3 linked regions of the Homo sapiens genome follow. The protein of the gene in region 3 interacts with the protein of the main gene of each other region in a pairwise test. Each region holds a gene or a part of one and is shown on either strand. Other genes may lie near its edges. The genes, in order: COLEC12, SPTAN1 and EXOC1.

Evidence for each region.
Region 1: the proteins of EXOC1 (region 3) and COLEC12 interact in a two-hybrid assay, tested with the Homo sapiens proteins (2 studies listed by BioGRID and IntAct).
Region 2: the proteins of EXOC1 (region 3) and SPTAN1 interact in a two-hybrid assay, tested with the Homo sapiens proteins (2 studies listed by BioGRID and IntAct).

What each region holds. Positions count from the first base shown.
Region 1 is NC_000018.10:347,179-350,829, reverse strand, and holds part of COLEC12 (collectin-12), read left to right. Parts: intron 1-2,666; coding exon 2,667-2,765; intron 2,766-3,488; coding exon 3,489-3,651. UniProt on the Homo sapiens protein: Scavenger receptor that displays several functions associated with host defense. Promotes binding and phagocytosis of Gram-positive, Gram-negative bacteria and yeast.
Region 2 is NC_000009.12:128,625,587-128,629,237, forward strand, and holds part of SPTAN1 (spectrin alpha chain, non-erythrocytic 1), read left to right. Parts: intron 1-182; coding exon 183-392; intron 393-804; coding exon 805-1,101; intron 1,102-1,417; coding exon of another isoform or gene 1,418-1,504; intron 1,505-1,799; coding exon 1,800-1,912; intron 1,913-2,338; coding exon 2,339-2,356; intron 2,357-3,538; coding exon of another isoform or gene 3,539-3,601; intron 3,602-3,651. UniProt on the Homo sapiens protein: Fodrin, which seems to be involved in secretion, interacts with calmodulin in a calcium-dependent manner and is thus candidate for the calcium-dependent movement of the cytoskeleton at the membrane.
Region 3 is NC_000004.12:55,860,041-55,863,691, forward strand, and holds part of EXOC1 (exocyst complex component 1), read left to right. Parts: intron 1-370; coding exon 371-501; intron 502-3,651.

The sequences.
Region 1 (3,651 bases), on a different chromosome or scaffold from region 3:
CAGCCTCCTAAGTAGCTGAGGTTACAGGCGTGTACCACCACAACCGGCTAATTTTTGTATTTTTAGTAGAGATGGGGTTTCACCATGTTGGCCAGGCTGGTCTTGAACTCCTGAGCTCAAATGATCCACCCACCCCAGCCTCCCAAAGTGTTGGAATTACGGGCGTGAGCCACCATGCCCGGTCTGAAGTCTTTTTTTTTAAGCTATTGATACTAAGAAGGACAGTCAGACTTGATCCCAAGCTGCTAGAAGCTGTATCTCACATAAATCACTTTTGGAGAAACATCCTCTTATTTAACATTTTAGAAACGTGTACTTGAATTCATAACTGTAGAGAATTACTGCCTTCTGAAAATGAATAAGAACTGAAGCTTTTATTTAGTGTGGCTGTATTAGTCCGTTCCCATGCTGCTGATAAAGACATACCCGAGACTGGGAAGAACAAGAGGTTTAACTGGAATTACAGTTCCACATGGCTGGGGAGGCCTCAGAATCATGGTGGGAGGCAAAAGGCACTTCTTACACGGCAGCAGCAAGAGAAAGTGAGAAAGATGAAAAAGTGGAAACCCATCAGATCTCGTGAGACTTATTCACTACCATGAGAACAGTATGGGGGAAACCGCCCCCATGATTCAAATTATCTCCCACTGGGTCCTTCCCACAACACATGTAAATTCTGGGAGATATAATTCAAGATGAGATTTGGGCGAGAATACAGCCAAACTGTATCATTCCACCCCTGGCCCCTGCCAAATCTCATGTCCTCACGTTTCAAAACAAATCATGCCTTCCCAACAGTCCCACAAAGTTTTAACTCATTTCAGCATTAACCCTAAAGTCTGCAGTCCAAAGTCCCATCTGAGACAAGGCAAGTCCCTTCCGCCTATGAGCCTGTAAAATCAAAAGCAAGCTAGTTACTTCCTAGATACAATGAGGGTTACAGGTATTGGGTAAATATAGCCTTTCCAAATGGGAGAAATTGGCCAAAACAGAGGGGTTACAGGCCCCATGCAAGTTCAAAGTCAGCAGGGCAGTCAAATTTTAAAGCTCCACAATTATCTCCTTTGACTCCAGGTCGCACATCCCGGTCATGCTGACGCAAGAGGTGGGTTCCCATGGTCTTGGGCAGCTCCACCCCTGTGGCTTTGCAGGGTACAGCCTCTCTCCCTGCTGCTTTCATGGCTGGTGTTGAGCATCTGTGGCTTTTCCAGGTGAACGGTGCAAACTGTCAGTGGATCTACCCTTCTGGGGTCTGGAGGACGGTGGCCCTCTTCTCACAGCTCCACTAGGCAGTGCCCCAGTAGGGACTCTGTGTGGGGGCTCCGACACCACATTTCCCTTCCACACTGCCCTAGCAGAGGTTCTTCATGCACATCCCACCCGTGCAGCAAACCTCTCCCTGGGTATCCAAGAGTTCCCATACATCCTCTGAAATCCAGGCGGAGGTTCCCAAACCTCAATTATTGATTTCTGTGCACTCACAGGCTCAACAACACATGAAAGCTGCCAAGGCTTGAGACTTGCACCCTCTGAAGCCACGGCCCCAGCTCCACATTGGCCCCTTTCAGCCATGGCTGGAGTGGCTGGGAAGCAGGGCACCAAGTCCCTAGGCTGCACACAGCATGGGGACCCTGGGCCTGGCCCACGAAACCATTTTCTCCTGGGCCTCCAGGCCAGTGATGGAAAGGGCTGCCAGGAAGGCTCTGACATGCCCTGAAGACATTTTCCCCATTGTCTTGGGGGTTAACATTTGGGACGGCAAGAGAAAATTAGAAAGATGCAAAAGTGGAAACCCCTGATAAGACCATCAGATCTTGTGAGACTTATTCACTACCACCAGAACAGTATAGGGGAAACCACCCCCATTATTCAAATTATCTCCCACCAAGTCCCTCCCACAACACATGGGAATTAGGGGAGTATAATTCAAGGTGAGATTTGGGTGGGGACACAGCCAAACCCTATCAGTGGCATTACTTTCCCTATCATATGCAATCAAGAAAATACTACCAAAAAATACTTCTTGGCAAATCATTGTTTGGAAACACCACTCAGGCATCTACTTGAGAACTGACAAACTACAGAATCAGTTGTCACTAACAAAAAGCAGATTTTCAGGGCCTTGTGGTGGAACTCATAACAGAAAGTGGCAGACACTCTTGACTTTGCAACCTTTCTATGCCGATTTTGTGTATAGAATTGAGCTGGGTTTTCCTTGCCAATGGAATCCTCTTCTAGGTAAATGAGTCCCACCTGCCAAGAATGTTAGGGAAGCTGATGAGTGACAACATTTTGTAAATTATCACAGTGTGCCTTGCCTTCATCTATGGAAATTAATATAGGAAATAGCAGATTAGGGACTTCTAAAATGCATGAAAATTTTTAAATTAGTTCCAAATGATTTCTGAAACATCCAAGGCATTACAGAATCATAAGAATAGTTAAGAACATACAATTCTCAACTAAGTAAATTGTACCCCTGGGTTTTGTGACAAGTAAGTTATTTTTCCAAAAAGATGGCTTTTCTTTCCTATATTTGATTTCAGTTACACTGTTTTCGTTCAATCTGTTTCCTTTGTTCCATAATGAAATGATCTCTTGTTTTGAAACTGAAAAATAAAATATGAGCAGATATGTATACTAATGCATCATTTTCCAAATCTTAGTTGTAGAGAAAATGGACAATGTCACAGGTGGCATGGAAACATCTCGCCAAACCTATGATGACAAGCTCACAGCAGTGGAAAGTGACCTGAAAAAATTAGGTAATCTGTGACAAGACTAAACCATGAAATCCCCTGACTCTACATAAATGACCACAGCTTCTTAGAATGATGTTGCTATAAACTCCCCATTCACCCGGAAGGACATTCAATTTTTGTGTTGCATGTTGAGTCTCCCCTCATGATTTAATTCAAATGCTTAAATTTTAAAGTTAAGGGTCAGTTTTGGAATTAAGTCCTGCCAAGAAAACTATTATGTGCCAAATAATATCTGAAGATCAATCCTGACTGAAAAAAAACACAAATACCCTTTATTAAAAACTGTCACATAAATAGGAATTTACTGAGCATTTTTGAAATACTTTAAACTACATAGAATTGTAGAAATTAAGTTATAAAGTGAAAGATCCTAGCATATTCTATTCCTTGATTTTTGCTTTCATTAAAAAAAAATTTGGGAAATTTAAAAGGTTAGTTTCTTCTTGACAGCCTGCCCACTGCCCTAAAATCTAGTAAATTCCCCCTCCCTCTTTGAGAAAAATGTTCAGCCAAGTTTGTCATTCCTAGTTCTGAGCTTCTTTTCCGATTCCCCAGGACCCAGTTTTAATAGATATGTACATTTTACTAATGCAGAGCTGTCCGCTTATACTGCCAATTTTGCATCTAAAATACAGTGCATACCGATTAAGTGTGTTCGGGATCTTTGGCCTTGCCTGAACACTTCTCCATACCACCAATATAAGTCACAGATATTTCTTATTCCAGGTGACCAAACTGGGAAGAAAGCTATCAGCACCAACTCAGAACTCTCCACCTTCAGATCAGACATTCTAGATCTCCGTCAGCAACTTCGTGAGATTACAGAAAAAACCAGCAAGAACAAGGATACGCTGGAGAAGTTACAGGCGAGCGGGGATGCTCTGGTGGA
Region 2 (3,651 bases), on a different chromosome or scaffold from region 3:
CGCAGTGATCTGCGGTCTGAAGGAGAGCAGGAAAGGGGGCATGTGTGACTGAGTCTCAGCAGTGTCCAGGTGGACAGTTTGGCTTGGGCATCTGGGGGACATGCTGGTGCCATCTGAGCCTAGGAAGAGCAAGTTCCAGTCCTGTGGAGTCACCACAAATTGGCTTGTCACTCCTTGTTCAGGAAACTTTTGACGCTGGGCTGCAGGCCTTCCAGCAGGAAGGCATTGCCAACATCACTGCCCTCAAAGATCAGCTTCTCGCCGCCAAACACGTTCAGTCCAAGGCCATCGAGGCCCGGCACGCCTCCCTCATGAAGAGGTGGAGCCAGCTTCTGGCCAACTCAGCCGCCCGCAAGAAGAAGCTTCTGGAGGCTCAGAGTCACTTCCGCAAGGTGAGGATGGGGCCACGTGAAGCTTAGCTGGCCCACAGCTCAAGGAAGGACGCCCACCTTCTGTCTGCCCAGCTCTGCCACTCCCCCTTGAGGAAGCTGTGAGCTCAGTGCAGAGCTTTCAAACATGGGTGTGGCTGGCATCAATTAAAACCAGGGCAAATGAGAGGGCCCTGTGAGATCGCCATTCAGAAGCACGCAGGACAGACTAGAGACAAGGGCAAAGGGTAGGAAGGGGAAAAAAGGCTGGTGAAGACTTGAAGGGGGAGCAGGAGACAGGAGCAGAGGGGAGCTAAGCTCCCAGCAGGCTGTGTGCGCCTCTGATTCCCAGGAACCACCCCGCACCCCACCTCCTGCACTGCGTCGGCACGTCCAGCCCTGGCGACTCCGCCAACTCAGTCTCTTCTGCTTCCAGGTGGAGGACCTCTTCCTGACCTTCGCCAAAAAGGCTTCTGCCTTCAACAGCTGGTTTGAAAATGCAGAGGAGGACTTAACAGACCCCGTGCGCTGCAACTCCTTGGAAGAAATCAAAGCTTTGCGCGAGGCCCACGACGCCTTCCGCTCCTCCCTCAGCTCTGCCCAGGCTGACTTCAACCAGCTGGCCGAGCTGGACCGCCAGATCAAGAGCTTCCGCGTAGCCTCCAACCCCTACACCTGGTTTACCATGGAGGCCCTGGAGGAGACCTGGAGGAACCTACAGAAAATCATCAAGGTACACCTCCCGCTGCCCTCAGGAGCTGCTCGGCCTCCCAGAGCCCTCTCTGGGCCCTGCTCAGAGCCCACACTTAACTGAGTCACGACAAGACGAGCAGGATGGAGGAGCATGGTTTCATCAGAAGTTTCATTTCTTTTTGTGTTCTTGAGGCAGGGTCTCTGTCACCCAGGCTTCAGTGCAGTGGTGCTACCATGGCTCCCTGTAGCCTCAACCTCCCAGGCTCAGGTGATCCTCTTGCCTGAGCCTCTTGAATAACTGGGACTACAAGCACGTGCCACCACGCCTGGCTAATTATTTTAATTTTTGTAGACAGGGTGTTGCTATGTTGCCCAGGCTGGTCTTCAACTCCTGGCCTCAAGCAGTCCTCCTGCCCAGGCCTCCCAAAGTGCTGGGATTACAGGTGTGAGCCACTGTACCCAGCCAGAAGTTTCCATTTCTGACAGTCCAGCAACTCCCTGCTTGACTGACCAGTCGCTTCCCTCCAGGTCCGCCTCTTCCTTGAAGCCCCTGGGGGGTGGGAACAGAGAAAGAACTACCAAGTGCTCTGAGCCGGCCTCATGTCTCCCAGCCTCCTCCTCTCATCTTTGGGGAGGTTCCTTGTGGGGAGGCCACCACCACCCTGAGCCCATCTGTGAAGGAGGGGCTGGTGTCACTGCCACAGCAGCGCACAGCATCTGCCCCCCTTTGGCCCTCAGGAGAGGGAGCTGGAGCTGCAGAAGGAACAGCGGCGGCAGGAGGAGAACGACAAGCTGCGCCAGGAGTTTGCCCAGCACGCCAACGCCTTCCACCAGTGGATCCAAGAGACCAGGTGCCAGCCCGCTGGGGCCGGGGAGCAGCAGCATGTCCCTGCTGTACTTAAGCCCTGGGGAGCTTCCAGCCCCAAGGAGGTGGTGGTGCTTTGTGTAAAACCAGAGGCAGCCTGGGAATAAAGCTGGGCTGGCAACGCCTGGTCGGGCTCTGGAGCCGGGAGTGGGGGCATAGGTGGAGCAGCCTCTCAGTGCTGCATGTCCCAGACATCAAGTTGTTAGAGATCCCGGATTGAGTGGGACCATGCAGGGCGCGTGGTCAGCCCCAGCCATGACTTGGTGACAGACGATGCAGGGTCTGTGCGTTGGGTACTGATGTTCTTGCTTTTGTTTTCCTTTCTTTCTTGTGTCTTCTCTCTGTCCCCCCGATTGCTGCTGTTGTCCGGACACCACCTTGTCTCCCGGCTGCTTGGATCTGCTCTCCACAGGACATACCTCCTCGATGGGTTAATATTGTTTTCTTCCTTCTCTGGGCTTGTCATGTGGGGGTCTCGTGCGCTTGCCCCTCGTGGCCTGGCTTGTGGAGGATCCCGGGATGGGCCTTCCTGCCCAGGGCGGGCTGCACTTCCCCTCCCACCCTTCTCGTCACCTGATGAGGAGTGTGTGCCTTGCCCCATAGCCCATGGTCCCTGGTCCCCGATAGAGCCTTCAAGCCAGGGGGAGCCGTCCTTGCCTCACTGGGCGATTCCAAGGGCTCACTTTGGGTAGGGAAGGTGATGAAGCACGAAGGCCAGAGCTGGAGTCCAGAGGCCCTAAGAACCCCCGTGCCTGTCCAGCCACCGGGCTCTGTTGGGCTCTCACCTCTGCTTCCCCAGCGAGTCCAACAGTGGTCAGTGGGCATGAAGCAGATGGCAGTGCTGGGGGCTCAGGCAGGGTACAGTAAGTCCACAGCTGAGAAGGGCTGGGCACTGACACCCCCTAAGTAGCTGAGGCTGCCACTTTACTTTCCTGGGGTCAGGGAGGGTAACAAGACTGTCCGCCCTAATAGAAGGCAAAAATGCACCCGTTATGTGATAGACAGGACGTGGGAGGAGCCCCAGGGAGGAGCAGGGCTGGGCTGTCCCGCCCAGTCCCGGCAGGGACTTCTCTGCTTGGCCTGGGGCCTCTGCCTGGCCGGGTCACCTTTGTAATCTGCCAAGCCTGCTGTGAAAGCCAGGGCTGCTGGGACTGGAGTGGCTTGGCCTGCACTCCTGAGGCTCTGCACCCAGGCACATCAAGCCTGTATAGGCGGCCAGGGGAGAAATAGACCCATCCAGCCGGGCCACACATTCTGATGGCAGAGCAGCTGGGGACGTAGGGATCGCAGTTTCCGGCCTGTGCCCGTAGGACACCCTGGCCACCTGACTCCCCTCCCTGCCCCATGCCTGTGTCTGCTGGTCTTGCTCTTGTCTCCGTGAGGTGCCACGCTCCCCTCACCTTATGGCTCCTCCCAAGCCCTGCCCATCTTGCCCATTCCTAGTGTGAGCTGCCTGGGGTGAACCACTGGGCCTGCTGCCTCCAGGTACCCGCCGGGCACCAGGTTGCCCTTGCCTGCGCCCTGCCAGCTTGGGCTTTGTGTGTGTCTGTTGCAGTGTGCTCTTGCCTCCCCTCCCTTTGGTGTATTCATTTGGTTTCTTTTCTTTGAATAGCATAGCATATCGTCGGGTCATTCGTGTCTATCAGTATGAAGTTGGGGATGATCTGTCTGGAAGGTTTTTCTCCTTATTTCTCTTCTTACCTCACTGTGGCTTTACTGATGCAC
Region 3 (3,651 bases):
TAGTAAGAACTTTATATATAAATGTATTGTTGCTCTTTGAAATGGTATTTTGCTCTTTCAAGCCTCACAGACTTTACTTATGTCAATCATTCTTTAGATTTTTACCTCATACTTTTCTTTAAAACTGGTCTGAATTTATTATTAATATATCATTCCTTTATTTTTCAAGGAATCTCCTCTGATCTTCTAGTCTGACTTAGATGCTTCTATTAGGATTCTGTGCTTTCCTCGGTCATAGCACTTGTTGCAAAGTATTACACCTCTTTTAGTATCAGCTACTAGGCACCTGAAAGCTATACTTGCAATGAGTGAATGAAGAATGAGTGAAAGGGGTAATATTTCTAATAAAAGTGTGCGTTTTACTCAACAGTGACAACTGAACGCCCTGTGCAGGTTAAGGTGGTCAAAGTCAAGAAATCCGATAAGGGAGATTTCTACAAAAGGCAGATTGCATGGGCCCTTCGAGATCTTGCTGTGGTAGATGCCAAAGATGCTATCAAAGTAGGTTTTTCTCAGTTCTTTGACCTGTGTTCAGAAAGCATCTTTCATTTTATAACATGGTATTACATATTCTAAAATGATCTAAAAACAAATTAATATATATGTTTGTTTTCTTATTTTTTTGCTTTTTTTAAGCTATAATTATGTTTGTGCACAAGCTACATAAACTAGAGAAAAATTACTTTGACTGTATACATTTCTGTGTTTAGATTAAGTATAATTTGTATAAAATCTATACATAGTATGGATTTTAAAGTGGTGTGTCATGAGTTTTTTTTGCTTGTTTGTTTGTTTGTTTAATCAAAATCATATAACCAAAGTGATCCTTCCTTAGTCTTCATGAGTAAACATAGAATCACCAGCTGGGGCAGCCAGACTGGCCTTTTGAGGCCACCATGGCTTTGATGTTTGTGGATCAAAAAAAAAAAAAAAGAAATGATAGTGGGTTACATACCTTATTTTAAGGAATGTAGATAATAAGATCTATGAAGATATAAACTTACACGTTATAGATAAACCACACTCAAACTCCAAGAAAGGTGATTAATGTGATAATCACATTAAAGGACCACCTATGTTCCTGACAGTTCAAAGCTTTCACAGCAATACCCTTTTTTCAAAGCAATCAAGTTGGCCTCCTTTGATTAAATTAGGTGCTTCCTCCCCCTGGCCCTCTCTCACTCTGCCCTTCATCTTTCTCTGCAGCCCTAACACACCTCCATAGCACAAGAGAATACTTTGTACCACAACTACTTGTATGTCGATGGGATGAACATAATAGCAAGGCTTATACTAGTGAAACTACAGGTGCTCTTTGACTCTACAAATCTCATACATTTACTAAAAAGGCACAAAGTAAAAACAACAAAAAACAAAAAAACTGCCTGTGTAAAGCAATCTGTTAAAATAAAATTCTGATTTTACCCTTACTTTGGTACAAACCTCCAAGGATCAAAAATCTGGACAAAATGACAGGTAGTTGAGTTGGGTGCAAAAAAAATGAAGTAAGAACAATTTGAGGAGAGCCCTCTATATCTGTATAATTCAGATTTCTTCCAAATGTAAATCATGCCTTTTCTTTAAGTATTCTAGGCTTACTGGCCCTTTGTTTTATCCCTAAGGAGCACCCAATGCTTAGAAAAATGTGAAATGTAGAAACAGGATTTGACAGAAATTTAGAAAGCTAGAGATTGGAAAGAAAATTATAATGGGATGTTTAAAAATAATTTAGGCCAGGCGTGGTGGCTCACGCCTGTAATCCTAACACTTTGGGAGGCCGAGGCTGGTGGATTGCCTGAGCTCAGGAGTTCAAGACCAGCCTGGGTAACACAGTGAAACCCTGTCTCTACTAAAATACAAAAAATTAGCTGGGCGTGGCGGCACACGCCTGTAGTCCCAGCTTCTTGGGAGGCTGAGGCAAGAGAATTGCTTGAACCTGAGAGGCAGAGGTTGCAGTGAGCCGAGATTGCGCCACTGCACTCCAGCCTGGGCAACAGAGTGAGACTCTGTCTCCACAAAAAAAAACAAAAAAAAACTTCTGTAAGTAATTTTTATTACCATGGGGAGGGATCAAGAGTGGAAACTTTTCTGGTTGTTTTCTGTTAAGACAAAACACTTTAAGGGTTTTTAAAACTGCACCTTTATTAAAAAACATTTTTCCCTTCAGTAGTTTTGCACTTCGTAACCCTGTTGACTTGCATAATTCAGTAACATTGCTGAATGCTTATTTGAATGCATTCTCACAGCTGATGCCTCTTGCAGACTTGCTTAATGGATTTTTTTTTTTTGCATTTTATGTAGGCACCTTGGTGTGTGTATGCTATATATGGATATAAAACATAAAATTTTTATACATAACTTAACATTAGCCATTTAGTATCACACATTGATTTGTGAGTGTTGCCACTGGAGCACTCAGCTTCTTTTATGGTATTATGGGAAATATTCCCAGGGAAGAGATTATTTCCCATCAAGTTTCATATTGGTTGCCAATACTCTTGTTGTGTTTTTTTGTAAGTAATAATGCAATTACCTTTTCATTGTATATGCAGGTTTTAAATTTTTGACGCTTCAATTCTGTTTATTAAGCTATAAATTGAACTAATTAGTAGTTCCATGCTGCTGTAATATGATTGTTGTACCAAAGGTCAAGTCCTGATTCCTGAGATACTCCAGTTCTTCACAGTGAAAGTCTGATATAACTTCCCTTACTTTAATGTATTTACATTTCCCCCAAATAACACTTTAAATGAATCAAATATATTATTATTCTTTTACCCTGTAGAACATTAAGAATATTTGAGCCTATTTTTTAATTCCTTGGATGTGAAGTATACATCCATAAGTTTGTTTGTTTGTTTGTCTGCTTGTTTGTTTTGAGACAGGGTCTCACTCTGTCACCCAGGCTGGAGTGCGGTGGCACAATCTTGGCTCACTGCAGCCTCCACCTTCCGGGCTCAAGCCATCCTCCCACCTTAGCCTCCCGAGTAGCTGGGACTACACGTACATGCCACTACACCCGGCTAATTTTTGTGTTTTTTGTAGAGAAGTGTTTTGCCATGTTGCCCAGGCCAGTCTCAAATTCCTGGGTTCAAGCAATCTACCCACCTCGGCCTCCCAAAGTGCTAGGATTACAGGCGTGAGCTACCAAGCCCAGCCTGTTTTTTTATATAATAGTCAAGTAGTTCTATTCATTCAAGGGAGAAATATTAGCCTGATGTGGATTATTGCTATAATGTGGCTTAAGAGACTTGAAGAAACTATAGTGTAATTCTCTCAGATTGGTTGAGCTTCTTTATCACATGAAAGAACGTTAGGCCAGGAACAGGGCTCATGCCTGTAATTCCAGCACTTTGGGAGGCCGAAGCAGGAGGATCAACTGGATAACATGGGGAGATCTTGTCTCTACAAGAACATTTTAAAAATTAGGCATGCTGGTATGTGTCCGTGTCCCCAGCTACTCAGGAGGCTGAGGTTGGGAGGATTGCCTGAGCCCAGGAGGTGGAGGCTGCAGTGAACCATGATTGCACCACTGCATTGTAGCCTTGGCAACAAAGTGAGACCCTGTCTCAAAAAAATAAAGAACTTTGAGACCTAGCAGCACTTTTAGCTTTCAAGATATCTTTAATCATTCCTTATTTTCAAAATAGA